Linked DNA regions of Homo sapiens: all the other regions are linked to region 2. Evidence: fine-mapped expression QTL. A gene starts in region 2. Each other region holds a variant in brackets. All regions are shown on one strand. Distances are from middle to middle. Region 1 has its middle 11 kb from the start of SLCO4A1-AS1. Region 2 holds the start of NTSR1 (neurotensin receptor 1). Region 3 overlaps NTSR1 (neurotensin receptor 1). Region 4 overlaps NTSR1 (neurotensin receptor 1). Region 5 holds the start of NTSR1-AS1 (NTSR1 antisense RNA 1). Region 6 has its middle 21 kb from the start of NTSR1. Region 7 holds the start of LINC00659 (long intergenic non-protein coding RNA 659).

The links. PIP is the estimated chance that this variant, and not a neighbour inherited with it, causes the effect.
Region 1: its variant is fine-mapped to the expression of NTSR1 in whole blood (INTERVAL, PIP above 0.99). The same link has a PIP of 0.9 or more in blood mononuclear cells.
Region 3: its variant is fine-mapped to the expression of NTSR1 in blood mononuclear cells (TOPMed, PIP above 0.99). The same link has a PIP of 0.9 or more in monocytes and whole blood.
Region 4: its variant is fine-mapped to the expression of NTSR1 in whole blood (TOPMed, PIP above 0.99).
Region 5: its variant is fine-mapped to the expression of NTSR1 in whole blood (GTEx, PIP 0.99).
Region 6: its variant is fine-mapped to the expression of NTSR1 in whole blood (INTERVAL, PIP above 0.99).
Region 7: its variant is fine-mapped to the expression of NTSR1 in stomach (GTEx, PIP 0.97).

What each region holds. Positions count from the first base shown.
Region 1 is chr20:62,675,285-62,679,346 of GRCh38, reverse strand. It overlaps a transcript of SLCO4A1 not described here. Among named protein-coding and RNA genes, the nearest start is that of SLCO4A1-AS1, 11 kb to the right of the region's middle. The variant G/T (reference allele first, on the strand shown) is at 2,135.
Region 2 is chr20:62,706,995-62,711,056 of GRCh38, reverse strand. It overlaps NTSR1 (neurotensin receptor 1), which reads right to left and starts at 2,221. Exons shown (of 4, transcript NM_002531.3): 1 at 1,136-2,221. The coding sequence starts at 1,849. RefSeq lists enhancers at 930-1,474, 1,475-2,021, 2,231-2,743, 2,744-3,257.
Region 3 is chr20:62,727,083-62,731,144 of GRCh38, reverse strand. The region is part of intron 1 of NTSR1 (neurotensin receptor 1); the gene reads right to left. NTSR1-AS1 (NTSR1 antisense RNA 1) reads left to right here. Exons shown (of 2, transcript NR_199009.1): 2 at 1-1,215. Among named protein-coding and RNA genes, the nearest start is that of NTSR1-AS1, 6.2 kb to the left of the region's middle. The variant G/A (reference allele first, on the strand shown) is at 2,024.
Region 4 is chr20:62,737,952-62,742,013 of GRCh38, reverse strand. The region is part of intron 1 of NTSR1 (neurotensin receptor 1); the gene reads right to left. Among named protein-coding and RNA genes, the nearest start is that of NTSR1-AS1, 4.6 kb to the right of the region's middle. RefSeq lists enhancers at 1,446-2,074, 1,055-2,254. The variant G/A (reference allele first, on the strand shown) is at 1,814.
Region 5 is chr20:62,732,229-62,736,290 of GRCh38, reverse strand. All of the region lies in intron 1 of NTSR1 (neurotensin receptor 1), which reads right to left. It overlaps NTSR1-AS1 (NTSR1 antisense RNA 1), which reads left to right and starts at 932. Exons shown (of 2, transcript NR_199009.1): 1 at 932-1,065; 2 at 3,109-4,062. RefSeq lists an enhancer at 663-1,508. The variant T/C (reference allele first, on the strand shown) is at 1,585.
Region 6 is chr20:62,686,052-62,690,113 of GRCh38, reverse strand. It overlaps a transcript of SLCO4A1 not described here. Among named protein-coding and RNA genes, the nearest start is that of NTSR1, 21 kb to the left of the region's middle. The variant G/A (reference allele first, on the strand shown) is at 2,461.
Region 7 is chr20:62,774,532-62,778,593 of GRCh38, reverse strand. It overlaps LINC00659 (long intergenic non-protein coding RNA 659), which reads left to right and starts at 1,738. Exons shown (of 3, transcript NR_046225.1): 1 at 1,738-1,788; 2 at 3,208-3,279; 3 at 4,025-4,062. RefSeq lists a silencer at 2,270-2,431. The variant C/T (reference allele first, on the strand shown) is at 1,727.

The DNA of each region.
Region 1 (4,062 bases), 32 kb after region 2:
CACATGTATGGATTTGTGGAACCACGTCCACCGTCAGGACACAGATAGCTTCATGACCCAGAACCACGTCCACCATCAGGACACAGATAGCTTCGTGACCCAGAGCAGCTCTGCCATGCTACTTTTTTGTTGTTTGTTTGTCTGAGACAGAGTCTTGCTCTGTCGCCCAGGCTGGAGTGCAGTGGTGTGATTTCGGCTTGCTGCAGCCTTTGCCTCCCAGCTTCAAGCGATTCTCCTGCCTCAGCCTCTGCAGTAGCTGGGATTACAGGCATGCTAATTTTTGTATTTTCAGTAGAGATGGGGTTTCATCATGTTGGCCAGGCTGGTCTCGAACTCCTGACCTCAAGTGATCTGCCTGCCTCGGCCTCCCAAAGTGCTGGCATTATAGGCGCGAGCCACCTTGCCCAGCCCCATGCTACTTTTAAAAGCCACAGTTTCCTCTCCACCCCAGCCCCTGGCAACGGCTTGTCTCCTCTCCATCCCTGCAGCTTTGCCTTTTGGAAGCTGTTGTGTAAGTGAAACCACACACTACTAACCTCTGGGGTCTGGTTCTTTTGCTCAGCGTGGTGCCTCCCAGGTTCGTCCCTGTTGCATATTAACAGTGCCCCCCTCTCACGGCTGAGTCTATCGTGTGGCTGTACGACTATTTATCCTTTCACTTCCTAGAGGACATTTGGGTGGTTTCCAATTTTGTTGATGATTGTGAAAATTCGCTTGAACCCGGGAGTAAGAGGCTGCAGTGAGCTGAGATTGCACCACTGCACTCTAGCCTGGGTGACAGAGCAACACCCGGTCTCAAAAAAAAAAAAAAAAAGAATAGCGCTGTAAGAAACATTTGTGTACAAGATTTTGTGTGAACATAATTTTGCCTTTCTCTAGGAGTGGAATTTCTGTGTTATAAGAAGGTTCAGGTCTAACTTTATAGTAAACTGTCGAGCTGGGTTCCCGAGCGGCCGTATTGCTCTCCACGTCTACCGGCGACGGGTGAGTGTTCCAGCCACCAGAGTCCTCATCAGCACTTGGCATTGTCAACAGCTTTCTTTTAAATTCTGTTAAGTCCTGACTTCTTTAATTTTATCTAAATTTTGCTTGAAAACTGAAGTTAAACAAAACCCTCTCTTCTCCTTCTTATGCACAGCTGCAATAAAGCCTGCTGGCGTTTCTGCCTGGAGTCGCCGCTCGCCCAGGGCATCTGCACGTTTTCTGCCTCTGTGTCCCTGCAGGCCACAGCGCTGCATAACCTACTGTTCCTGTCTTCTGAGGTTTTCCCTTCCTCCAGCTTCCATCAACCTTTGCCTCACTTTCTTTCAAGCCTTTACTGACAGCAGAGGCCCTCAGGCTGAAAACAGCATCCTTACTTCTTTCCTTCCCAAATCTGCAGGTGTGGCTAGGTGGGAAGGGCTGATTCCCTCCCCTAAGGGGAAGTGGGGACAGAGAGCCCAGCTGGGGACTGGAGCACCCAAGACGGCACCCCCATCACGGCGGACTCGGCCTGGCTGACAGCTGGTGCCAGAGCGGGGGCTCCCATGACCTGGGCTTGCTCACAGCGTGGCGCTGGGTTCCCAAGTTGAGCGTTCCCAGAAGGCACTGCCAGTAGAAGCTGTGTCACCTCTGCCACGAGGCACTCCCAATCGCCTGCCAGGCTCAAAAAGAGGGTGCACAGACCCCACCTCCAGCAGAGGAAATGGGACATATTGTGGCCGTTGTTGGAAAATATCTGCCTCAGTGGGGTTGGAGTGCAGGTCTCTACGCCCCCTTCCTGCCTCCTGCCATCCTCTGCTCAGTGGGGTTGGAGTGTAGGTCTCAAGCCCCCTTTCTGCCTCCTGCCACCCTAAGGAAGTGAGCAGGGAGGGAGATTGTGGTACATCTGAACATGGGGCCCACACATGCTCTCCTGGCAGAGTTGCAGTTATGGAACAGACACCAGAAAGTTATGGAACAGACACAGATCCCCCAACAGATCTCCATGGTCTACAGGAGTGAAAGCACAGGGCAGGCAGTCAGCGATGAATGCATGGATGGATGTATTTAATAATAGCTTTACTGAGATATAAGTCACATCCCCAAATATTCACCCTTTAAAGTGTACAATTCGGTTTTTTAAGCATGTTCACAGAGTTGTGCAACCATCACC[G/T]TTATCTAACTCCAGAACATTTCATCACTGCACCAAAACGCCCTGCACCCATGACAGTCGCTCCCGCCTCACCTTCCCCCAGCCCCTGGCACCACTAGTCCATTTTCTGTCTCTACAGATTTGTCCATTCTGGACATTTCTTACAAAAGAATCACAAAACACGTGGCCTTTTGTGTCTGGCTTCTTTCACTGAGCATGTTTCAAGGTCCATGCGCACCTGCACACCATAGCGCAGGGCTTCATTCTTTCTGATTGACGGCCAAGCAAGACCCACTGTGTGGACAGCCCACGCTGATTTACCTACTCATCAGCCAGTTGACATTCGGGCTGGTGCACTTTTTGACTGTTATGAGCAACATTGCCGTGAACATTTGTATGCATGTCTTTATGTGGACATATGTCTTCATTTCTCTTGGGTAGATACTAGGTGTGGAATTGCTGGGTCATCTGCTAATTCCATGGTTAACTTTTTGATGAACCGCAAAACTGTTTTCCAAAGCGGCTGTGCCATTTTACCGTTTTACATTCCCACCCATAGTGTGTGAGGATTCCAAGTTCTCCACGACGTGTCGTTTTCTGGTTTTGTTTGTTTGTTGCTTTTGTTTTTGATACGGTCAGCGCTGTGGCTTTGGTTTGCACTTCCCTGAGTGGGAAAATCTTGAGCATCTTCTCCTGGGCTCGTTGGCCTTTTCTATGTCTTTTGTGATGAAATAAAAGTCAAATCCTTTGCCCATTTTTAAATTGGATCATCCTTTCATTGTTGGGTTGTAGGAATTCTTCTTATTATTATTTTGAGAAAGAGTCTCACTCTGCCACCCAGGCCAGAGTGCAGTGGCACATTCATGGCTCACGACAGCCTTGACCTCCCAGGCTTAGGCGATCCTCCCACCTCAGCCTCCCAAGTAGCTGGGACTACAGGCGCACGCCACCATGCCCGGCTAATGTTTTGTATTTTTTTTTTACAGAGACAGGGTTTCGCTACGTTGCCCAGTTTGGTCTCAAGCTCCTGGGCTCAAGCGATCTGCTTGCCTCAGCCTCCCAAAGTGCTGGGATTATAGGCGTGCGCTGGCGAGCCGGCCGAATTCAGTGATAATTTTTAAATGCACAGAAGAATAAGAGGAACTGGTCCAACAACCAGAAAATTTGACGTTTCCAGCTGCTCCTGGCGTCTGACTCTTGAAGAACATTTAGTGCACAGCACACAGGAGGCCCCCGCAGCCCTCATCCCAGCAGCCGTGGAAAATCTCTCGAGGGAAAACCAAGTGGGCTTGGAGGACTCCTGCCTGCCTCTCCCTCTCCCAGGATGCATGTCTTTCTCCTCCCCACAGGCAGCCGGGCCCTGTGGCCGGCACCTTCCTGGCTAATCCCAGGGGCTCCTCCCAGGACGTGGGAGGACAGGGGCTGGCTGTGGGAGGCATCCAGGACCCAGGCCAGCATGCAGCCGAGGGCGTATCCAGGGCCCATGTGCCCACCAGGCTGGGTGCGCCCGTGATCCCGGAGAAGCGGGGGGCCTGTGTGGGCATCTGCAGATGCCTTCTGGCCTCTGTGGCAGGGCCAGGAGCCACACGCTCCCTGCACTGAGTCACACAGAGGCTGGGTCATCAGGCCTGGGGGGCTGGGGCCGGGACCAGGCTGCAACCAGACTGCTTCCTCTCTGCCCCTGTGTCCCAACTGTCCCTGTCAGCCATCTGCTCCTGTCTCCTCCCTGGGCCTGAGTCAGAGCCAGGCGGATTGTCAATGGGGAAGGCAAGGGGAGCTTAGATCGAGGCGAGGGCAGCAGAGCTCAAGAGCTGCAGAGACCCCGCAGCTCTTGGGAGCTGCCTGAGGGGTGGCAGAGCCCGCGTGGGTGGCCGGCAGCCCGGGCTGCCCACTGGAGGGGCCCTCCTGGACCTGGGAAGGGAATCTGGGCTTGGTGGCCTCATCCATCA
Region 2 (4,062 bases):
ACCCCCACCGGGCATACTGGCATACGCGGGGTGCCCAGGCAACTACAGAAGCTTAGCTGGGAGGCTGGCGATGCTGGTGTGTGGGGAGTTGGGGGGACAGCCAGCCACCCTGGCCCCTCTAGCTGGGCAGAGGTAGGCGACTCTGCCCGGATCCTTCACCCTCTGGCTTCCTTAGCCCACCAGAAATGGAGGAAACCCCACACTTCTAAGGCTGCTCATTTCCAAGATGCCTTTCAAAGTTCCCGACCGGCCCTGACTTCCTCCCTGGACACCAGCCTCCTGCTCGGGGCTTTGGTTTGATCAGCCCTCCCCTCCAGCACTGGAACCCCCCGTGCCACGAACCTCAGCCAAACTGATTCCCAAGGGGGCTTCCCACCCGCATTCCCACGGCGCTTTGCTCAGACCCTTGGAGGGCCCTTAGTCACTCGGCTCCAGTTTTACACACCTCACCACAACACCGCCGCCACACGCAGATCCTCACAACCTTCCCCGCAGAAACATCGTCCCCACCATCCCGCAATAATAGTGCCTGTGAGCCCTTCTATGTGTCAGGGGCCATGCAAACACTTCCCACGCGTCCTCTCTCCAATGCTCTACCTTCTGAGGTCAATGCTATCACTACCCCATCACACAGATGGGAAAGCTGAGGCTAAACTAGGAACTGGCCCAACACGGCATCAGGTTCTGTTCTGACTCCCAAGTTTGGGTCAGGGCAGGCAGCTGGGAGGCACCGGCAGAGCCAGTCTGGGGGCTTCTCTGCAGAGGAAGGAACATCACCTGTTGGTGGCACAGTCTTTTGAGAAGCTGATGAAAGTGTTACTCTTCCTTTGGAGACGCAGGTGCCAGCGCACATGTTTCCATTAGGCTTAAGGAATTCAGAGATGTCCGAGGCCCAGCCACCAACACCAGAGAGGTCACAGGCAGGGGCTCCATCCCCTCAACAGGAGGGAAGAAGATAGGGGCTGAGCCTGGCAACTCTGGAGCTGCCCCCAAGCTGCCCCAACCGCCTTCCCAGCCTCGCAGGAGTAGACTGTCTCTGTGACATCTCTCCCACTCCCTACCCAGAAGGCACACCACTGGCACTGCTTTTGGGGTGAAGGAGAGGGGAGCCCCGGGGCTGGTTACTGAGGCTCACCTGTATGACGACCTTGACGGTGGCAGTGTGGATGGTGGGGGTGCACACCAGGCCGCCGGCGTGCTGGCCGTCGGCGCTGCGGTTCTGCTCGCCCATGGTGAACAGCATAGGCACCGCCAGCAGGGCCGAGGCGAGCCAGATGGCGCTGATGAACTTCTTGGTGCGGCTTCGGGACATGAGGGTCTTGGCCTTGAAGGGGTGGCAGATGGCCAGGTAGCGCTCCACACTCAGGCTGGCCACGTTGAGGGCCGTGGCGTAGGTGCAGGCGTCGCGCAGGAAGTAGTAGCCGCGGCAGCCGGCGTCGCCGAAGGCCCAGGGGTGGTGCACCCAGATGAAGTTGTACAGCTCCACGGGCATGGCCAGCAGCAGGGTGAGCAGGTCGGACAGCGCCAGGCTGCCCAGGTGGTAATGCACCGTGCTCTGCAGGCTCTGCAGCGACTTCTTCCGCGCCAGCGTGAACGCCGTCACCGTGTTGCCCACCGTGCCCACCACGAAGAGCGCCAGGTACACGGCGGTCACCAGCACCTTGGAGTAGATGTCGGTGTTCACGTCCAGCTCGCTGCTGGGTGCCGCCAGGACGCGCTCCGACGCGTTGCCCGAAGCGTTGCCGAAGCCCGGGGCCAGCAGCGCCTCCTCCAGTCCGGCCTGCGCCCGCTGGAAGGGGTCGGCGGCCGGCGTGCCCGGGGTTCCCGGCGCGGAGCTGTTGAGGCGCATGGTGGGCGCTGGAGTCCGCGGCTCTGTCCGGCGCCTCCGGGGCTGGAAGTCCGGGCAGGAGTGGGCGCGTCTCAGGCGGGGACCGATGAACGGGAGCCCAGGGGAGGGCGCGTGGCGAAGACCAGCGGGCGCGCCGTCCAGTCGGGAAGCGCCAGACCCAGACGCGCCGCCCCGGGCTCCGGGCTCCGGGCTCCGCTCTCCTCCGGACTCCCAGCTTCCGGCTCCTAGCTCCAGAACCCGTGGTTCCTCGGGCTGTCTCCCGGCTCGGCGCTTGCCACGGGTTCCAGGTGCCTCCGATCTCCAAACCGCGCGGTTCCCCAGGCCCCCGAGGACAGCGCCCAGCCCGGCTCGGGCTGCGCGGGGCGAGCTTGTGGCGCCGGGAGGAGCGCACGCACTGCTGCCCGGGCGCGCTCCCCTCCCTCGCTCAGAATCTCCTCCCTCGCGCTCTCCGCGCACCCCAGCCCCGCACACCTCCCGCCGCGCCCGCGCCCTCCCGGCTCTGCGCGTCTCCACGGAGCCGGCGGCCGCGCGGCGCGCCCAGCAGTGGGGGGTGGCGGCGGAGGAGGGAGGCAGCCCCCGCCGCCATCCCCGCCCCGCCCGGGTGCAGCCTGGCGGGTCGCCCCCTCGCGCTCCCCGGGGCAGGGCGGGCTGGGGTGAGCGCTCCAGGGAACCAGGATTCCGAGCGGGCGCGGCGGGTATCGTGCACCAGACCCTTCCTGCCACCCTCTTCCCTGTTCTCCGCAATTTCTCGCACCGGCTAGGAAGGGAACTATGCACCTCCCCCAACCCTGGGCTCGCTCAGTTGGGGTGAGGGTGTATCCGGAGGGCAGGGAGGGAGGAAGCTCCCCGCTGGCAGGGCTGGGCGGCTGCGCAGCTGGTTGGGCCGACCCCCACTCCTGGGTGTCCACAGGGTGCCAGAAGCTGGGTGCCCAGGGGGCTCTAGGACCACTGGAGATTACATTTCTGGTGATTCCTTTTAAAATCTGGCCGCAGTCATGGGCGTGCCTGGTCTGTGAATGCGTATTTCTGGGATGTGCCCAGTGGAAATGGTGGGGGCTCAGGGCATAGTTATCACCTGGGGCAGGATGGCGTGAGGCAGTACCGAGGGACACCTGCAGGGGCTGAGGAGCTGAGGGGCTGGGTCCTGCAGAGGCCGGGAGCCACAGATGGTTTCATCAAAGTCTGGGGAGGGGTGAATGAGGGAGGGCAGAAAGCAGGTGCCCAGAGCAGCACCCTCCCCACTCAGGGCCCTGCATCTGGCACCCTGGGCTGGTCTCATGACGCTATGGGATGTGATGCCCTGGGCCCCTTATTACTGCCTGGATTTGTCATCAGAAGCCACCCTGAGAGCCTGCGCCCCAGCAGGATTTGGGAGAGGCAGCCCCAGCACGCATCCTCCCAGGCCCTGCAGGCTTTGCACACTCCCTCCCTCTGAGTGTCCTCACAGGGTGCCCCGGCCCCTGGCTCGGGAGCCAGGTGAGGGCAAGATTCCTGTCCTTTCCGTGTCCCCCCCAGCACCTGGTGGCACTGGCATAGGTGGCCAGGCACAAGCTTGCCCCCCCCTCCATGTCTGGGTTGCCCAGGGGCCCCCAGGGCACTACTGTCCCTTCTCTGGGCCCTCCCCGCCCCCTCCCCTGCTCCCTCCTCCCCAGAACCCCTGGGAGAGGTTGGGTAGAGCTGCTGCCCCATGTGTGCAGGGCTGGGAGGAGCTGCTCGAGTGCAGCCCAGGGAACCAGCCTGGCCTTTGTGCACATGGCTGGCTGCACCTGCTGTGCTGGGAGCAGGAAACCTGGGCAGGCTGGGGCGGGGGTCGCAGGGTGTTGAGGGAAGCGGGAGGCTGAGGAACCCCCTCCCGGGCCCGCCCAGCTAGGAGAATTCAAGGCTTCTGAGCCGGTGGCTGGCAGCGGGACTCTGTGATTATTCGTCCGTTCTCGCCCTGCTTTGGACTTCTCTGTTCAACCGGAGCCTGATACTCTTGTCAGGGGGCTGCAGCTCACAAACATCAGAGCTTAGAAATCTTGGCATCAAAGGAAACGCCAGTGATCCCTTTGCTGGAAGCCAGTAGATAGGATTGAATGTTGGCCCTGCTACTTCACATTTGGGCGAGTGTGCTTAGCGTCTCTGTGCCTCGATTGAGTCGTCTGTAAAATGGGAATAGCGGCTGAATGAAGGGCAGGGCTGTTACTGATGGGTCTCCACGGGGAATGAACGAG
Region 3 (4,062 bases), 20 kb before region 2:
CCATTACACTCCAGCCTGGGCAACAAGAGCGAAACTCCGTCTCAAAAACAAAAAAGAAAAAACAAAAACAAAACAAAACAAAAACGCTCTAAAAATGACACTGTTAAACGAATGAGAAGACAAGATACAGCCTAGGAAAAAATATTTGCAAAATACTTGATAAAGGAGTGTTATCCAAAATATATAAAGAACTTTTACAACTCAACAATAAGGAAACAAACATGAAGAAATGGGCAAAACATCTGAATAGACACCTCATCAAAGAAGACGTAGCAATGGAAAAATAAGCACAAGAAAAATGCTCCACATCATATGTCATTAGAGAAATGTCGATTAAAACAATGAGATCAAATGAGAATGGCTACAAAAACCAAAACCAAGATCCTGACGACACCAAACGCTGGCAAGGCTGCGGAGCAACAGAACCGCCCTCACCCGTGGCTGCTGGGAATTCAAAATGGCGCAGCCGTGCTGGAAGGCACTTTGGCAACTTCCTACAAAGCTCAACGTATCCTTACCACGTGTTCCAACGATCGCCCTCCTTGGCATTTCTACTCCCAAAGGGGTGAAAGCCACACAGAAACCTGCACATGTATGTTTATAGCAGCCTTCTTCATAAATGCCAAAAACCAAGATGTCCATCAATAGCTGAGTGAATAAACAAGCTGGGGGACATCCAGATAATGGAATATTATTCAGCCGTAAAAAGAACAAGCTATCAAGCCATGAAAAGACAGGGAGAAACCTCAACTACATACTGCGAAGGGAAAGAAGCTGGTCTGAAAAGGCTGCATACGGTATAATCCCAGCTGTGTGACGTTCTGGGTAAGACAAACTGGAAAGACAGTAAGAGGATCAGTGGGTGCCAGGGGTTGTGGGGAGGGAGGAATAAACAGGTGGAGCTCCAAGGATTTTTTCGGGCAATGAAACTCTTCTGCAGGATCCTGGGATGGTAGATATAGGACATTACACATTTGTCCAAACCCACAGAAGGTACAAGACTGATGAACCCTAATATAAACTGCAGACTTTCCTTAATAATGTATCAATATTGGCTCATTAATTGTAACAATGTACCACACTAATGCAAAATGTTAATAACAGGGAGACACCTGTTATTAACAGGTGAGGGCCAGGAGACACCATGGAGCCGCTGTCCTGTGGGCTCAACGCTTCTCTACAACTGTTCTAAAAAATAAAGTCTATTAATAACAATTTAGATGGCCAGGCATGGTGGCTCAGGCCTGTCATCCCAGCACTTTGGGAGGCCGAGGCAGGCAGATCACTTGAGGTCAGGAGTTTGAGACCAGCCTGGACAACATGGTGAAACCCTGTCTCTACCAAAAATATAAAACATTAGCTGAGGGAGGTGGCGGGCTCCTGTAATCCCAGCTACTCAGAAGGCTGAGGCAGGAGAATCACTTGAATCTGGGAGGTGGAGAGCTGAGATCGTGCCACTGCACTCCAGCCTGGGTGACAGAGCGAGACTCCATCTCAAAAAAAAAAAAAAAAAAAAAATTAGAAACCCCTAGCCCCAAGTTCTAGGTCTCTGCCCTGGAGATTCTGATCCAGTTGGTCTGGGGTGAGCCTTGGGGTCTGCATTCTGGAAGCACCCCTGGGGGAGATTCCTGAGGCTATAAGGCTCTGAGCTACACCTGTGTCACCTGTGTTTCCCTCTCCTCCCCTGAGGGCCCACCCTCCATCCATCACCTGCACCACAATCCCTGTCTCAGGCTGTGCTTCTGAGGACTGCCCCCGCTCCATGCACGAAAGAAATTCCAGATCTTTCCATTCTCCCTTTGTCTCATCTCTCCCCAGTGGGCTGGAAGCCACAGAGCCTGTGTTGAGCAGGCCACCCTGGGGCTCCCAGGGAGCTACTCTCTCCCCACCCTGCCCTCCTCCCGGAGCCCCCAAGTTGGGAGGAGTGGCTTTGACCATGCAGATAGCCACTCCTGGGGGCTGCAGGCACAGCAGAGAAGCAGACTTGGGTGGATCTGTGGGTGTCAGGCATTTGGGACATGCC[G/A]TGAGTAAGTGTGTCTGGATACAGCTTCAGTCTCAGGTTTAGCTCCCTGCAGGGCACGAGCCCCTCAGGTGTGCACAGACCGAGGACTGGACATCCATCTCTTGGCTCTTGCCAGCAGCTTCTTCTGAGTGTCGCCGGAAGGGCTGGGTGGGGTCAGGGGACAGTCTTAGGGTCCCTTTCCAACTCAGCATCTCCGGCTTCCTTCAGAAAAGAATCTACCCCAAGACCCTTCTCAGTGTCCTGAAGCCCCTCTGTCTGGAGCGAGGACTCCACTGAGGGCCGGTTCTGGGTGCAGGTGACAGAAACTGGGTGGGCACCTGGCTGGGCTGTCCAGGTGACCTGGTGGACGTGCCTCTGGCGTTTGGCAGAAGTGGCTGCCGTGAAACCTGCTTGGCCTCCGGGTGTTGGCCTGCCCTTCGCGACTCAGTTTCCTTTTCCTTCCCCTTCCTGAGCAATGCTGGCACACACAAAGAAAGCCCAGCTGTGCACACAGCGTCTTCCGCAGACACCGTGGCCCAGCCTCCGGCAGGCAGAGAAAACCACAAACGGCCTCCACTTTCACCGAAATGGAAGCAGCCTTGCCAAGGGGATGTTAAGAAATGAACTTCTGCCATTTTTAGAAACTGAACAGTAAAAATCCCCGGGAATGAAGCTGGTGCTGGAAACGGAAGCTCCGTCCCCTCCTGCGGGGACGTCTGTCTGTTCATCACCAGTAGTGTCTGCACCCACCCAGCTCCACCCCCTCCTCAGGGTGGGGCTGCCGCACACACTGACCGCAGGGATGGGGAAACAGGGCTTCATGGAGGAGGTGACCCTGGGGTCCAGCTGAGTAGCCGGGGAGGGAAAGAGAGAGCACCGACCCCAAGGTACCCATCTCCCTCCTGTTGATCAAGGCTCGGATGCTGGGAGACTCGGGGGGACCTGTGCACCACTCCCTTCCCCTGACTTCAAAGCCGACTCAGCCCCTCCTCCAGGAAGCCCTCCCTGCTGTCCAGTCCACACCCCTCATCCACAAGGCTCGTCCTTGTGGTCATAAGGAGCCCCAGGAGGGGGAGTAAAGAGCCAGATGATGGGGCCGGGCCTAGACTGGCCCTTCCTTGGCCCTGCAGGCACCGTGGGCCTGGGGCAGCCCTGAGGCCTCGCTGGGTCCCCAGCACCATCTGCTGTGACAGGAGGTGAGTGAGTGCAGGCCCCAGGTGCTGGGTCGGCCCACGCCGGGAGCGCCGGGAACACAGGTCTGTCCCTTTGCCCACTTGGCCCCACCCTTGCCATGGCACCCATACCCGCCTGCCCTTGCTCTTCTCCCACTCTGGCCCTCGGCTGTGGCCCTGGTGGCCGCTGCTGTGCAGTTCTGAGGCCGGGGCCATTTGCTGATCCAGGGGCTGCTGCTTTCAGCCCACAGGTCCCCCTGCCACCACGCCAGACACAGGTTTTGTGATGAAACCTGTTTGTGGCTCAGGCACTCCCGCCTCCCCTCCAGGAAATCCACGTCCAGCCACCCTCTCTGTGCTATCCCCTCAGTCACCTCGATGCTGGAGGCGGAGGGCTCAGAGCCACTGCCCAGCGGCCGTACCACAGCGGACTCTCCTTAGACCGGTGCTGAGCCCGGCGGCCGGGCAAGGTGCAGAGGTGGCTCCAGACCCGCCGGCAGTCCAGCTGGCGCTATCTCTGGGGCAGAACCCGTGGCCCCAGGCGGTGACAGCCTGTGTGTTTTCAGTGTTCACTCCTCACTCCAGCTCACCTGTTCCTGGCACTCTGGGCTGGGACTTGCTGGGACCCCCCACTTCCACCCAGCCCTTGCTGCTCCCTGAGGGTGGAGAGGAAACCCTGTCCTCAGGCCCTGTGAGCCGGAGAGAGCGCATCTACGTGGTGACAGGTCTGTGGGGCCGGGGAGCCTGCAGGAGCCCGGCTCAGGGTGGGGGCAGTGCGGAGCCCTCACGGGCTCCTGTGTGGGGCTGGTGTGTCCTGCCCTGGCTTATGCAGGCAACCCGCTTCCCAGGCGGATGAGGCGGTCTCTCGGGGACTCCAGGAGGGCCTTG
Region 4 (4,062 bases), 31 kb before region 2:
TCTACACATACTCTGTGTGCACCACCTCAGGCACACAGGTCTCATCTGTGAGGCAGAGGCTCCTGTCAGGCTCCTTTTGTAGATAAAGAAACCCAGGCACAGTTGTGAACCCAGGGGCCTGATCCCACAGCCTGAGCTCCCACTTCCTCCATCAGGGGCCATCCTATGAGCAGATCCTCATCCCCACTGGTGAAGCTTTGTGGCATGTACCTCACCTGAGCAGATGCCTTCTGTGGGCCATTGCCAGGTTTTGAGAGCATCTAGTCCAAGGCTGTGGCTCCTTGGCGACCTCTCAGGGACTGAGCCTGCCCCACAGCCTCTGTCCATGGCTCCTCCACTCTGTTCCCTGCACTTTTCTTCTGGTTTGGAATTTCTGGGAAAGGCTCAAGAGAATGCCAGAGCCCCAGGGAGCCTCAGGGGTTCAGTACCATGGACAATGCCCAGGCATGCTCGAAGGGGCGCACAGACATGGGGTGGGAGGAACATGGTGTGGGGCAGGGGGCCGGTGTAGGGACCCCCAAGCCAGCTGGGGGCAAGGACCCCATCAGGAGAACTCTGGCCACCTGCAGACCCGTCCTCTGAGCGGGGCTGGTGAGTCACCCGTCACCTCTGCAAGAGGTTTGCCCTCCTCTCCTCTTCCAGGCAGCAGGGAGCCCTGAGTGTGGGAGTTGGAATCTTTTCCCTCCTGATTGCTGGAGCTATAGAGGCCATTGTCTGAGTGGGGACTTGGCAGAACAGAAGCCCCTGGAAGCCACATCCTGTCTGTGCCCGGCTGAGCTGCGGGACTGGCAGCAGCCTGGCTGCCGGGAGACCCCTGACTTAGCAGCCTGGCTGCCGGGAGACCCCTGACTTAGCCCAGAGGGCCTTAGTCAGATTAGGGAAAGAGCCTTCCTGACACCCTTGCCTCCTCTACCTGTGCTGGGCAGGTGCCCTCCAGGACAGGAGGAGGGGAGGCCCCTGGCCCTCAGCCCCGGGAACGGCCCTCCCCTCGCTGAGCCTGGCCGGGGCCCAGAACCCCAGTGTGCCCCATTAGTCACTCTGAGGGCAGTGCTGGGGTGGCGAGTTGCTTTTCAGCTGCTCCAGCACTTCTCAAGAGTAAATCACAGGCAGCGGCAGGTGACAGCCAGCGGTTGAGGCTGCGGGCTGCAGGTCTCTGCCATGTTTTCAAATATCTGCCAGCTTCAAGCCCATGAGAATGCTCACACCCACAAGGCATCTGCTGGGAAGCACGACAGGGCTTTAAAAACTCTTGACAAGCCCAGGAGGCTGCGCAGAGCAGTGAGTGAGGGGTGGAATTCTGGCCCCGGTCACGGCCCCCACCTCTCTGGGGATCTGAGCGGGAAGGATCCCTGGTAGGGCCTCGCACTCCTGTTTCTCAGATGAGGAAACCGTGGCCAGGTGGGGGCTCCCCTGGGCTCGAGTCCACAGCTCTGGTCTCCACCCTCAGACTGTCGGCACAACCCTTTTCCCTCCCGCCTGCACGGCTTGTAAGATCTGTCTCCCGCTCACCCTATGACTAAGAATGAGCCCCACAACCCTTTTCCCTCCGGCCTGCACGGCTTGTAAGATCTGCCTGCCGCTCACCCTATGACTAAGAATGAGCCCCACAACCCTTTTCCTTCCGGCCTGTGCGGCTTATAAGATCTGCCTGCCGCTCACCCTATGACTAAGAATGAGCCCCACAACCCTTTTCCTTCCGGCCTGCACGGCTTGTAAGATCTGCCTGCCGCTCACCCTATGGCTGCGAATGAGCCCGTTCGATCCGGTTTGCTGAGGCTTTCGTTCATACTTTTCTAAAACGCAGGGCACTAAC[G/A]TGACAGATCAGAAGTGGAGCTAACACACTTAGCACAGAGCGCTTTGGAGCCCGGTTCCTTGAAAAAAGCCACACCATCCGGAAAAGTTCTCTGCTCCATGCAGGAAAAGCCCAGAGACCTGCAAACGCAAGCCCTGGGTTTCCGGGGAGTTTGTGCAAAGCCCCAGCTGTGACCAAGGAGGAGCTGCTGTGATCAAGGGGGAGGCCCTGCAGCTGGGGACGAGGCGGTGCGGCCAGGGGCCAGCAGTCCCAGCACGACTTAACTTTCCATGTCAGAGCACAGATTTGGAAAAGAGCAAGTGTTCCCAGTTGCCTGCGGGACAGCATATGCGTCCCGCACCCCGCCGGCCTGTTCTCCAGTTCTGGCCGTCGCCGGCCGCTGCACCTCCAGCCCCACGGTTCTCTGTGTGCTTTTCTGCCATGCAGACATATGGGCATCAGGCACATCCTGCCCCTCCCAGCGCCTAGTGGCCACGCCCTGGCAAAGCTGGCCGCCGTGTCCCACAGACATCTGGCTCTACACAGCATCTCAGCGGTGTCAGTGGAATTAGTGTTCTGCCCTGTTGTGGTGAATCTGATTATGGTGAACACACAGAGCCAAGTGTCCTCACCCACCGGAAGAGGCCGTAGGGGTGAGAGAGGAAGGCCGGGGGCGGCCCCTCACACCCCCAAGTACCTGCATGGGAGGGACTGACTCAGTGACACCTGGCTCTCCTTGCTTCCCCAGCTGCCCAGCCCCTGGGCTCAGGGGGCCCCAGGCTCTGGCTTAACCCCAGATCTCCACCCTTTGTGCTTCAGCCAGGCCCCTTCTGTGTGATTCCAGGGGCTCCAGCCTCTACCCTGAGTGGCCGAAAGGAAGGGCCAGTGCTCTGGAACAGCAGTGGGACCCAGGGCCACCCCATCCAGTGCCGAGTCTGGGATCTCAAGAGCATAGGACGTGGGAGACTTGGTGAACCAAGAGGGCCCAGGGGCCAGGGTCAAGCACAGCCAGAGGGGGCCTGCTGCCCGGAAGTGTCCTGGAGAGCCTCTCAGCCTGTCCCGGTTCAGTCTCAAGAGCCCAACGGGTCCCCAACGGCGCCACACGACATGAGGTTCCACACGCGTCTCCCTCACAGCCACGCAGGGCTTTCCTTTACAACAGTGAGGAGGCTTGGCTTTTCTGTTTTATGAATGGCTCAGTGCATGAAAACACGCGTGTGTAAAAGATAGATCACTGGGGAGGCGACAAGTCCCAGCTTTCCCATTTCTAGATCCTAGAGTCAAGAACAAGGCAGCCCAGGATTTTGGCCTCGCTGAGTGACCCTGAGCATATTTCCCTTCTCGTGCTGGCCCTGTCTCCTCCTCATGATGGAAGGGGATGGGCTGGTCCATTTTGGAGATCTCTGGCCTGAGACCTAGACCCTCCGCCATCTCTGCTGCCAAGAGCAGCAAGGCTGGAGCCACCTCGAGGACCAGCGTGAGCCTGGACGTGTTCCCAGCCTCCAGCCCGGGTTCCTGCCATGCTAACCCCGCGGGCAGAAGAGAGGCAGTGCACAGGGCTCCCTGCCAACACAGGCACGGCTGAGGCCTGTGGCCACCTTGCAAGGTAGGAGCCCATGAAAGCCAGAGGGCTGATTGGCTCCAGGAGAAGCCTGTCTCTAGAGAGAGACAAATGTACGGCTCATAGGCTCGCCGGGAGATTTTCATGATACTTCGCTGGTGGTCATCAGCCTGTCCTTCCACCCTGCAGGAACGCAGCGGCAGCTGAGGCCTTTTTAGGAAACGAGGCCTCCCCATGGCTCGGGCTATTACTGCTGGCAGCTGGGAGGCTGACCCCACAGCTGCAGGCTTCTCCCCAAGCCGGGCTGCAGACCTGAGCAGGGAGTAGTTTGCCTGACTCTTCTTGGAATGTTCCAGAACTCAGTGGCTGCACCTGCCTTGTCTGTCCCTGTCCCTGGGTTCATCCAGGCCGGCCATCTAGCACCCTCCGTCACCCTCTGCGTGCACCTGGGTTCATCCAGGCCGGCCATCTAGCACCCTCCATCACCCTCTGCGTGCACTGCGTGCCCAGGCCCGCCTCGTGGAGCCTTCAAAAGCCCTGACGGTGCACCTGATGCATCCAAGGCACCTGGCATAGGCAGAGGAGGGGGAGGGGGGCAGACGTGGGCAGATGGGCACTGCAGGGAAAGGGATGCGGCTGTTGCGGAGGACCAGGGGGCATGCAGCGTGGTCTGGGGGAGATAAGGGGCCATTTTCCAGAGGAGGGAGCT
Region 5 (4,062 bases), 25 kb before region 2:
GCTGCCAAGGGCAGCAGCCCCAGACCCAGACAGGGAAAGGAGCCTGGCTTCCCTTCCCGCCCTGCTCCATGGGGCAAGTGCAGAGAATCCCCAGCCACGATGCCCCTGCCCGAGGCACCCCAGGCTCCAGGCAGATCTCAGGCCTCCTAACCCAGGCCCTGCCCCGAAGGGACAAGTTTCAGAACAAACTGTCCACTGGGCTAATACCCCGGCTTTTGTGATCACCACATACTGATTTCTATCGAGGGATGAAAATTGACAAATTTAAACGGGAATTACTGGGCTCGGAAATTTGTTCTTTGTAATGAAGGGAACAGTTGAATACAGAATCTGAATTTGGGATTCAGACCAGACCCCCTCAGAGAAAGTGCTGAACCCGTGAGGAATTGGAGGGTAAGGGGAACTGTTCTTGGCAACTCCTGTCCCATTTCCTTTTGGGATGGGGGCTGCTCCCGCCCCCTGCACAGCCCCACAGGTCACAGCGGGGAAGACCCTGTCCCTGGTCCCCGGTCGCAGTGTGTGCCCTTTCCTACTTCCCTGCACGCCAGCCTCAGGAGGTGAGCTCACCTCGCCGTGTCGGGGGGACTCCCGTGTTACCCACCCCCCAAGCCAGGGAGCGGCCTCCAGGGGAGCATGGGGGAGGCTGAGGCCACCTTGCGGGGAGGCTGTTCCTGGGGCTGGGACGCCTCTCTCTGAATCATCCCCGCCCACAGAAGGAATTCATCTCACTCCTAATAATGTGTTTGTCACAAAGACATAATCGGCTCATCTGTGAGACTCCAGCGTGCACAGCGGTGCTGGCTCTTTGTTGTATAGTGGCAGTCTCACTGCAAGGCCGTTGGGCTTTGAGGAAAGGGAAGGAGGCACCCACTCTCTCCCCGGGGGGCCCCTGCCTTCCCTCGCAGTCCCACCTCTTCCGCCTGCCTCCATCACAGCAATTCAAATAACTATGAATGGGGCTACCTGGGAGCCCCACATCCCTGGCTGTGGGAACAGGCTGACCTTCCAGCACAGTGTCCTCCTGGTGCCAGGCACTGCCCCTCTGCCAAGGACCCTGCAGGCCTGGTAGGTCCCCAAGGGCACCCGTGGCCTCCCACCCCCTAACCATGGTTTTGGCACTGAGCTGGCGGCCAGGCGGGGCAGAGGAGGGAGCTGAGCGTCTTTCTTTAGTGTGCACGTCACCGCACACGATGGCACCCCACTGGTTGCTGCCCATCATGCAGGGCTGCCTCCACATGGGGCCTCAGCACCGGCTGGTGCCTGGCACCCCGCACGCGGCACCCCACCCCAAGGGGAGGCTGTACAGGCTCTGGACACACCCCAAAGCCACCCGAGGGCTGCTTCTCATCAGCAGGGAGGGGCTCGGGCAGCACAGTCCCGTGGAAATAGGATGCAGGCCACGTGAGGCTTAAATGTACCAGTAGCTATGTTACAAAAGTGGAAGGAAACAGCTATGATAATTTTAATACGATATCTTATTTAACTTAATGTATTCAAAATATCATATCAACTTGCAACGGTATTAGTGAGCTATTGTATACCGCCTTTCCGCATTAACTCTAAAACCCGGTGCGGATTTCAGGC[T/C]GAAGCTCATCTTCACTCAGACCAGCCATGTCTCAATGCCCAGTGGCCACGTGTGGCCCAGGGCTGCCACATTAGACAGGGCTGCCTGCAGCTTTTATGGGAAGCCACCTGGGCCAGGCACACCAGCGCCTGCTCCTCGCTCCCCAGGGGTGGTCTTGGCCCCAGCTCTGCTCAGCAGAGAACCCAGAGCCTCCAGGTCAGCCCCGGACACAGGGCGTGGGCATTGCACAAGGTCAAGAATGAGTTACTCATTTTCAACCACCTAAAAAGATGGCCCCAAAATGAAGCCTGGGTAAGACAAGGGGCCACGTCCTTCCAGGAGCAGAGCTCGGCTTCCTCTGCATCGGCCACAAAGCCCCTACTGCACCGAAGCCCAAGAGCTGAGCCAAGATTTTTTTTTTTTTTTGCGGGGAAGGGGGTCACACTCCAGAGAAGGCTCCAGAAAAGCTCTCATCCCAGACCTCGCTGCCTCCGCCCGCCCCTCACGCCCCATCTCTTGCCCGTCCCCCACCAGGGCTGAAGAGTGAACTCAGTAGTAACCCACGTGGCTGAGCCAGAGAAGGAGGCTGCGCAGGGGACAAGGCGGTCGCTTCCAGGATGAGAAGCGCAGACTCGAGGTCGGGCAAACCTGCCGCCGGCCCCAGCCGTGTGCATCTGAGCAAGTGGCTTCCCCCAGCCTCAGGCTCCTCATCTGTGAAACGAAACCCCCTCCAAGCTGGGCTGGCTCAGCACCCAAAACCATCATTTAAAATGCGACCCTGCCTGGGGGCTGTTCGAATCCTCTATTGAGATAAAGTAGCAATCATACATTCATCAGTCACTACTCCCTGCTGGAGGCCTCTTCCCCAGCACAGAGCCTTCCCTCTCTCAGCTGAGACCCCAGGCAAGGGTAGGGAGAAGAGGGTGCTGTCTCCCTCCCCCTCCTCCCCTCTCTCTCCTCTGTTCCTCCCTTTCTCTCTGTGTCTCTCTCTCCTTCTCTCCCTCTCTTTGTGTTTCTCCCTCTGTTTCTCTCTCTGCCTTTCCCTCTCTCCTCTCTTTCCTTTTCTCTCTCCCTCTCTCTTCTCTATCTCCCTCTTTTTCTCCATGTGTGTATCTCTCCTCCCCATCCCCAGAAGCCAGCCCACATGGCTCACCCTGCATTGCTAGGTGAGACAGGCCTGAGCCCTAAGCCAGGAGTCAGCCACAGCCGAGCTTTCCAGAACTTTCTAGAACCTTCCCTTTCCAAAGTGGAAATCTGGACTAGAAGGCACGATTCCCACTGGGGAGCTGCCAGTGGCTCCCTGCCCAAGGGAAACACAACTGTCCCGAGAGATGCTCATTTGCTCCCGGAAAGGAGCGCAGCAAGCTTCAACCAAGTGCTTCAGGAGGGAACCAAGAGCTTCATTCTTCCCTAATTGGTGCTAATTTTCAGCCTTCCCAGAGCTGTGCCTGGGAGGTGCAGAGGTGCCTCCAGGGTGGCCCTGCGGGGACCGGGATGCACATTTCTCTGTTAGGCTGGTAATCAGCTTGCATTTTCTCTGACAGATCTTCTTCCGAAAGAACGTCTACACACTGCCGATGACATTTACTTCACTCAGAATTTGCAAGTCCAATGCCGACATGAATATGCACGGCACTGCTGCTTGGATACGTGGCCTCAGGGCCACGCCTGCGGGTGATGTGACAAGTCCACAGACTCCCGTGGCGGCTTCTCACCGAGAAACATTCCAGCACCTGGAGGCTGCCAGCTGGGAACCCCCTTTAGGCGACGTCAGCGCCGTTGGTTCTCAGCCTGAGCCGCCCCCTGTGCCCGCTGTGGTCCTCCAGGCCCAGGCAGGGAGAGCCCGAGGAAAAGCAAGCGGAGGGTCAGATGGGGAACCAGCGTGCCTGGAGCCACGCAGGGACACGGACTTAGAATTCTACCTTGCATTTAAGGAACAGATGATAGATACTCTCTACAGTCTCTTCCAGGAAATAGAAGCAGAGGAACACTTTATAACTCACTCTACGAGGCCGGCATTACCCCAATAACAAAACCGAGGATGTTACAAGAAAGGAAAACGCAGACCAGGATGTCTCATGAACACAGATGCAAAAACCCTCAACAAAACAGCAGCAAATCCAGCATCACATACTAAGAATTATACACCACAGGATTTCCCAACCAGCACCACATACTAAGAATTACACAAATAGCAGCGAATCTCATGCAGCGCTACATGGTAAGAATTAGACAGCACAGGATTTATTCCAGGCATGCGAGGCTGCTCCAGGGTTCGGAAACAGATTATCGAAATCCATCATGGCAACAGGAACTATTTTCCAAAACCCAACACCCATCTGTGAGAAAAACCTTTCACAAGCCAGGAATACAAGGGAACTCCCTCAGCTTGGTAGAGAACATCTACTAAAAACCTACAGCCCATGTCATACTCAATGGTGACAAACCTGAAGCTTTTCTTCCTAAGATAGGGAAGGAGGCAGGGAGGCCCCCTATCC
Region 6 (4,062 bases), 21 kb after region 2:
AGGCACCATGCAGCTGGGGAATCCACGGCAGACAGGCCCACTCACCAGGCAAGGGGGCTGGGGTCGTTCACCTGCCGCGCAGGCGCAAAGCAGGCACAGAGGCCAGGGAAGCCCATGTGAACAGGAGTGCAGGCGCTGGCTGCAGGCGTCGACTCAGCCCCTGGGGGTGAGGGTGGGGACGCGGGTCCCCCGCATCTGCTCCACCCCTTTCATGATTATTTCTGCAGGTAGGGGTTCCCTCAGGTCCACCCCCTTCCTCGGCCCCAGACATTCCTGGGTGCCCCGTCCCACACATGGAGTGGGGTGAGGATGATGTGGATCCCCCTGCCAGGAACACAAGGAATCGGGCAGCTTGGCAGGATCCCTACAGCTCTGCCTGAGCCCCCGCAAGTTATTAAGGCATGGCGGTCGCCTTCCGGAGGGTCTGGGGGTCTAAGATGACCAGGGCGTCTTTGGAAAGGGGCGGTCCCCAGGAGGGGCTCAATGCGGGGTGGAGACAGCTGCTCAGGTGAGTGCTGTGCTGGGCACCCGGCTCGCTGGGCCCTGCTGGGGCTGGGGTCCCCTCTGCCACGTCCCCCGTAGGGACCTGCTGCTCATCCAGCCTGGGAGGCCATGGGCCAGCACCTGAGGAGGCTGAGCATCTGTCCGTCTGTCCGTTCGGGCAGCTGGTATCCTCAGTGCCTAGGGTGATGTCTGCGAGCCCTGGCTTCTGCACGAGCACCGGTGTGATGGAGGAAGGACTGATGGAGAGAGGGAGCCACTCTGCCCAAGAGACAGGCCTGCGAGGCACGGGGCACAGCCGGGGACAGGCCTGCGAGGCACGGGGCACAGCCGGGGACAGGCCTGCGAGGAACGGGACACAGCCGGCCAGGGACAGGCCTGCGAGGCACGGGGCACAGCCAGGGACAAGCCTATGAGGCGCGGGGCACAGCCAGGGACAGGCCTACGAGGCGCGGGGCACAGCTGGCCACGTGCAGGCCAGGGAAAAATGGGATGAGGGTTTGGAGATGAGGGCCTGACTTGATTCCTTAGAGACCGTCCATTTATGGGAAAGAATGGGGCGCCTCCGGCCACCTGCTGGCTCCAAGACTAACCACAGGAGGAAATGTCAGAGGAAATTAACTGTGCTCGAGCTTTTGTGATGAGCCTGATTTTCCAGCTTCTAGAAAGCTGTGCTTCCATGCTGAGGCTTGTACTCGTTCGGTTTATTGGGAAGAATTAAAGGGCTTCTCGGAAAATGTTAATGTCTCCTTCCCACCAGCCTGGCCACCCCAGCTTCCCCCAGGCCCTGAAAGTTAGGTCTCCCCTGTGTTTGGTGCTTCTGACATTGCAGAGGGACTCCTTCCTCCTGGCAGCTCTGCCTTCAAGCCCAGAAAGCCATTGCTGGACACAACCCAAGTCAGGGGACCGGGTTTGCTGGAGTGGGTGGCAGGGGGCATGCATCCCCCACCCCAGCCATCTGCTGGCTCTGGAGCCCTGCTCTCACCCAGTTGGTGTCTCCTGGGCCCTGCGTCCATTCCATTTTGCCTTCAAAAGCCTGAGCTGCTGCTCTTACTCACTCAAGAGAGCCTCCAGTGTCCAATGTGAGCCCCAAACCCCGAGAAAATATAGGCAGAATTGTGTTTGCTGTGTGCACACAGACTGAGCTTTTGCTTAAGAACCTGGTGGGGCTACAGGTGAGCGGGGTTGGGGTGAGCAGGGTCAGGGGTGAGTGGGGTCATTGGTGCACGGGCAGGGTTGCACAGGGCTGGGGGGTGCATGGGTAAGTCCTAGCACTGAGTGGTGTAGGGGGCAGCCTCCCTCCCAAAGAGGCCTCGTGGGGGGCCGCGGGCAGGACCTGGGCGAGGTGTTCTCGTAGGGACCCCAGGGATCCTCCTTGCCCTCTGGGATGGGCTATCTCTGCTGCTCAGTGGACGCCCAGCTTCTGCGGCTTGCATATGGGGTGGCGTGTGAGTCAGCCCCTTCTATGTATGTGTGCACGTGTGTGTGTGTGTAGGTCTCTTATGCTGCTGAGAGCCTGGAAGGCAATGAAGTTGGTGGTGCTGGGACCTGGAAAGCAATGAAGCTGGTGGTGCTGGGACCTGGAAAGCAATGAAACTGGTGGTGCTGGGACCTGGAAGGCAATGAAGCTGGTGGGGGTGGGTAAGGCCCGGGGGTGGCTGCAGCGCGGCACTAGTGCCTGGTAGGACATGGCCGGGAGGTGAGTGGGGATCCCCTGGGGTACCTTTTCCTGCACTCCCATGTGCTCAGGGATACCCCTGAGGCTCGGAAGGCAGGTTGGGCCATGGCTGCCCTGGAGGCTGTGCTAGGCTGGCAGCCTAGTGGCCACGCTGACGACATGGGACCCGCGGCCCCAGCAGAGGTACAGGGAAGCCGGTGTCGTCCTTCCGTGTCCAGGAGCGGCCCCCCACAGCCCGTGCACCCCGAGGTGTGGCTTAGGCCCAGCCCTGCCCTTGGGGC[G/A]CAGAGTCTGGCTGGAGAGGCCCACCCAGAGCGGGGGATGGCAGGGGCCTCCCAAGGGACCTCCCCCTCTCTGGCTCAGAGGCTCTGCCCCGTGCGCTGCCTCCTGGCGTGGCCCTTGCCGGGCTCATTGTGTGGGTGCCAAGTGCTCCTCAGATGGTTGGTGGAAGGACGTGTCTCTGCATCCCGCCCGGATGACGCACCTGCCCTGCCCTGGACGCCACTGCGTGGTTTCTTCCGCCTCCTTGGCCTGCTGGCTCCTCCCCGGGCCTCGGCTCAGATGGCTCTTCCTCCACATGCCCTTGGCCTTCAGTGTAGACGCCCCAGGGTGGCCACTGTGTCTCCCGTGGCTGTGTGGCGTTTGGTCAACTTCATGGACCTTTGGAACAACGTGGGGCCAGGATTAGGAAGCTGCTGCCACTTGCCTTCAGAGGCCCCCGCTCCTGTTTGGGGGTGCCCTTTCCATCGCTCCTGTTTGGGGGCGCCCTTTCCATCGCTCCTGTTTGGGGGTGCCCCACCCATCGTGCCTGTTTGGGGGTGCCCTTTCCCATTGCTCCTGTTTGGGGGTGCCCTTCCCATCGTGCCTGTTTGGGGGTGCCCTTTCCCATTGCTCCTGTTTGGGGGTGCCCTTCCCATTGTGCCTGTTTGGGGGTGCCCTTCCCATCGTGCCTGTTTGGGGGTGCCGTTCCCATTGTGCCTGTTTGGGGGTGCCCTTTCCCATTGCTCCTGTTTGGGGGTGCCTTTCCCATTGCTCCTGTTTGGGGGTGCCCTTCCCATTGCTCCTGTTTGGGGGTGCCCTACCCATCGTGCCTGTTCGGGGGCACCCTTTTCATCTGCCTGCAATGGGCGCCCTGGCCAGCCACCCCTTCTCTGTGGTGCTGGGCACTCTGATACTCTCTTCCTGTCTCTGCACCGTCCAAACCTGCCCTTGGTAAAATAGCTGATATACTAATTCAGACTAAAGGGCCAACCATGGCTAAGACTTAGTGTACTCTCCTTTTCTTTTCACCTTATAATAAAATATTTTTAAAAGAAAGAAAACAAAACCAAGATCTGACTCTGGAATGGTGTTCAGCTGGCAGGGAAGGTGTCTGGGGTCAGAGGGCCCTCGGGGGCTCAGAAACAGCAGGAGGGCCTGCTCTTTAGGCAGCTGCCGGCCCCTCCCCTCTTCCCCGCTCCTGGCGCCAGTGTCTTCTCACTCTGTCCCCGGCCCTTGGTGGAGCGGAGTTGCATTCATCCTGAAGCTTTAGGACATGACACTCAGTCACAACTGTGACATGAGAAGAACTGCGAGCTCCACGCCGCTCTGCGGTTGACTGTTGTCCTCAGTAAACAGGGAAGTGCCTGTCACTTCTCAGCTGGGGGGAGGAAGGCTCGTTTCCACCCGGTGCTTGGAGATAATGTCCTTATGAATAGCTATTTAGACACCACCTGCCATCCTGTACCAGGAGCTCCGCACTGGGGCGGGAGCTACACGGAGACACTCAGCTCATTATTCTGAGCCGTCTCCATGGGCGGCTGCACTCCCCAGGTACAGAGATTGCCCTGCCCAGATGGGAAGTGGCCGCGATAAACAGGAATGGACGCAGGGGCTCTCGGAGTCCA
Region 7 (4,062 bases), 68 kb before region 2:
AATGCAAAGTGGCAGAGTGGGGGCTGCGAGGACAGGTACAGGAGCCCAGGGGCTGTAATCAGGGCCAGGCTGTGTGGTGCAAGGGCCCCGGAGAAGGAGTCATCAGCCTTGGGTCACCTCCTGCAGGCCAGGGTTCACGATGTGAGACAAGAGGCAGGATCACACCAGCCAACAGAGGACCACCCCATCAGACAGGCTGGGGACCACACCATCGAATAGGCCAGGGAACCACACCATCAGATAGATAGGCTGGGGACCACACCAACCACACCATCAGATAGGCTGAGGACCATGCCATCAGACAGGCTGGGGACCATGCCATCAGACAAGCCGGGGACCATGCCATCAGACAAGCCGGGGACGACGCCATCAGACAGGCTGGGGACCAAACCATCAGATAGATAGGTCGGGGACCACACCTTCAGATAGGCTGGGGACCACACCATCAAATAGACCAGGGACCAAGCCATCAGACAGGCCGGGGACCACGCCATCAGACAGGCTGGGGACCACACCTTCAGACAGGCTGGGGACCACACCATCAAATAGACCAGGGACCAAGCCATCAGACAGGCCGGGGACCACACCATCAGACAGGCTGGGGACCACACCATCAGACAGACCGGGGACCATGCCATCAGACAGGCCGGGGACCACGCCATCAGACAGGCCGGGGACCACGCCATCAGACAGACTGGGGACCACGCCATCAGACAGGCCGGGGACCATGCCATCAGACAGGCTGGGGACCACGCCATCAGGCAGGCTGGGGACCACGCCATCAGACATGCTGGGGACCACGCCATTAGATAGACTGGCCAGGGACCATGCCATCAGATAGGCTGGGGCAAAGCCATCAGACAGGTGGAGGTCCATGCCATGGGGCATGAGGTGGTGTCTGTCACCTGGTCCGGGAGCACAGTGTTGCCCATCCGTGCCACCTCCCTGAGGCCCTGGCAAGCATCATTCTCTAATGCAGACAGATGGCTGGGGCGCCAGCAGGAGCCAGACTGCCGCGGAGCAGGAACTGGGCAACTAAGGGTGATTTGGGCCGTAGAGAAGTGATTGATGTGGACAAATGGAGTCTGCAATGCAGGCCCCACGCCACCCTGGCTCCCTGTGCGAACCCAGGGCTCTGCTGCCCTGGCGGGGCTGACTCCATGGACGAGGTGGCTCATGTAGGGCTGGCTGGAAGTAATCATGTCACCCCCTGCAATCATGCCCCCAGGAGATTAGAATAGGACCCTGATCCCTCGTTTCTGTCCTATCCCCTCCTTTCCGTCCCATCTCCTCCTTTCTGCCTCATCTCCTCCTTCCTGCCTCATCTCCTCCTTCCTGCCTCATCTCCTTCCTGCCTCATCTCCTCCTTCCTGCCTCATCTCCTCCTTCCTGTCCCATTTCCTCCTTCCAGTCCCATCTCCTCCTTCCAGTCCTATCTCCTTCCTGCTCCCATCTCTTCCTTCCTGTCCCATTTCCTCCTTCCCGTTCCACCTCCCTGTTCCCATCTCCTCCTCCTGTCCCGCCCCCTCCTTCCTGTCCCGCCCCTCCTTCCTGTCCCACCCTCTCCTTCCTGTCCTGCCCCTCCTTCCTGTCCCGCCCCCTCCTTCCTGTCCCGCCCCTCCTTCCTGTCCCACCCCCTCCTTTCTGTACCTGTTGACCTCATCTGGGCTGCAGTTGGTGACTGCTCGAAGGGGTGGGAGGAACAGTATAAAGTCCTGTCCCCTTC[C/T]TGCCTTCAAGGGCACCCCTGAAGGACCATATCCACTGTGGACCCCCTTGGGATCAGCCGAGGTCTGTAGAGGTGACATTGCAGCCCAGCACCTCCCTCCTCCGCCCTGCCCTCCTCTGTCCTCCTTCCACAGGTGTGGCCAAGGGCACTGCCCAGTTGGCCTGTGACCCCCAGCTGAGGCTGCTTCCTGGGCAGCTGACTTCAAGTTTGTGACCTGAGCTCTCCAGGCCCCCGAGCGGCTGGTGCCTTGGCCCTGCAGTTCTGCGGCCAAGACTCCTCCTCTGGGATCTCGTCTTACCCTGCTGCGGGTGCCAGGGCTGCATGAAGCAAGGGCGAAAGTCCCCTTCGCCCGGGCGCTGCCCTCTGCCTGCTGTCCCCTGTGCTCCTGTTCCCCGTGGCTGCCCAGGGACAGGTGTGTGGGATGGAGGACGCGGGAGAGGCTGAGTCCTCCCCAGTGGACCCCCAGATGCAGACCCTGAGGCAAGGGAGAGTGAGAAAGTGAAGGAAAGAACACAGCTGGAAATGCAACCAAGAAGGAACCCCAGCCCGGACCACTGTGAGCAAGGAGAGCCGAGCCCCGGGGAGCCCTGAGACAGTGTGGGAGTGGAGGCCTGGGGCGCCTCCAGGCAAGGCAGCGGGATGTCTATGCCCCAAGCCCTGCCAGTCGTGGATGGAGACGCACACTTTAGTGCGGGCTCCAGAGACAGAGGGAGCCCCAGGCCGAGAGCTGTGGGTGCTGGGCAGGTGGGCATTGGCCAGCATTGCCCCCACTCATGGCGGGTCCACCTTAATTCGACGGGTGTGACACTCTCCTCACACATGTGCACATTCAAGAGGCAACTGTCTGTTTCTATAACTGGGTGCATTTCGGTCTGGAGCCGTCGAGCCGGGTGGTGGCCATGAATCCCAGGCAACTTGGGGGGCCCAATCCAGGGTTGCCTTTTGGGGGCCTTGGGGCGGCTAGTGCAGTTCCACATGCTGTTAAGGACCTTGAGATGGGAGATTATTCTGGATGGTCAGGGTGGGCACAGTTTAATCACAGCCCCTCTAAGAGGGACTGGGAGGGTCAGGGTCAGAGGAGGAGAGGGGACGACGGAAGGGAGAGAGAGGCTGGGAGATGCCGTGCAGCCAAGGAGGGCAGGAACCTCTAGAAACCACAAAAGGCGAGGACACAATCTCTCCCCTGAGGCAGAGACCCAGGGCTGCCCCGCACAGTCGCGCAGATCGTGTACTGCCCTGCTCCTGGGGCTCATTCACACAGGTTGCCATGGCTGTGGGGTCCCTGGGGCTGGGCTATCTGCCAACCTGGGGGACGCTGCACCCTGTTTTCTGTCCTGTCTACTCCAGCTTTTCACACTCTCTGTTGCCCTTGTCCTTGGGCATCTCAGTGACTCGAAGGAATTGGGTCTTGAGACACAGCCGAGCCTGTGAGCGCTGACCTGTGTAAAGAAGACACCAGAATGAGATGTCTCCACACACAGAGAGCTGCAGCCGATGCCGGCCGGTGACTTGGGACTTGGATGCTTAACAGGAGGCTCCCCCTCTCTTGGGAGGTGAGGATGGGGTTGGGAGCATGTGTCTCAGGGGCTGGCTTCACTCGCTCCTTAGCCCCAGCAGGTGCATCTCCCCCCTGCGAGGGCCTGGTTGCTGTAGTTCTTCTAGAAGGCCGCACTGAAGGGACCCTCTGATCCTCATGCCAGCTCTTAAGACATGCTCCACTCTTAAGACAGAGACAGGAGCTCCCGGGCTCGTGCACACCCTCCCTCTGCGCATGTCCAGGACTCAGGGTCACAGCGTGGGCTCGTGATCCATGGGGTGGGACTCCAGCCTGCTCTGCCTTGGGTTCTGAGGCCAGAAGCAACACTTCCCTCATGTGGGTCCTCACAGGGACCAAGTGGAAGACTGGCGGGGGCGGGGCCCCAGAACTCCACCCACATTTGCACACTCAGCCTTCCCACGCCCAGCCACAGCTTCCATCCATCATCATTGTCCTGTCATGGTGGTGAAAACCAAATCTCTGTCAAAGGAGTTTTCTCCACCCCTTTTCCTGAGGTTGTAGTTTGGGGAGAAGTTTTGAAAATTGCCTGTCCTTGCTAGTGGCTGGGAGTGCTGGGGCACCTTGTCCTTGGGTCTTCTGTTCACACAGACCCCTGTCGTGGCTTCCACAGTCCCCTCAGCCCCTGCCTGGAAGGAGCACGCAGGGCCCTCCGCCTGCCCCAGTGGAGGGAGCACAGAGCCCAAGCAGCCCCCCGGAACTTTCCCCAGCTCGGCCTCATGGTCTGGTGGTTTCTTCTCCAGGTAGAGAGCAGTGAGGAAGGGGACTCAGCCTCCATGCC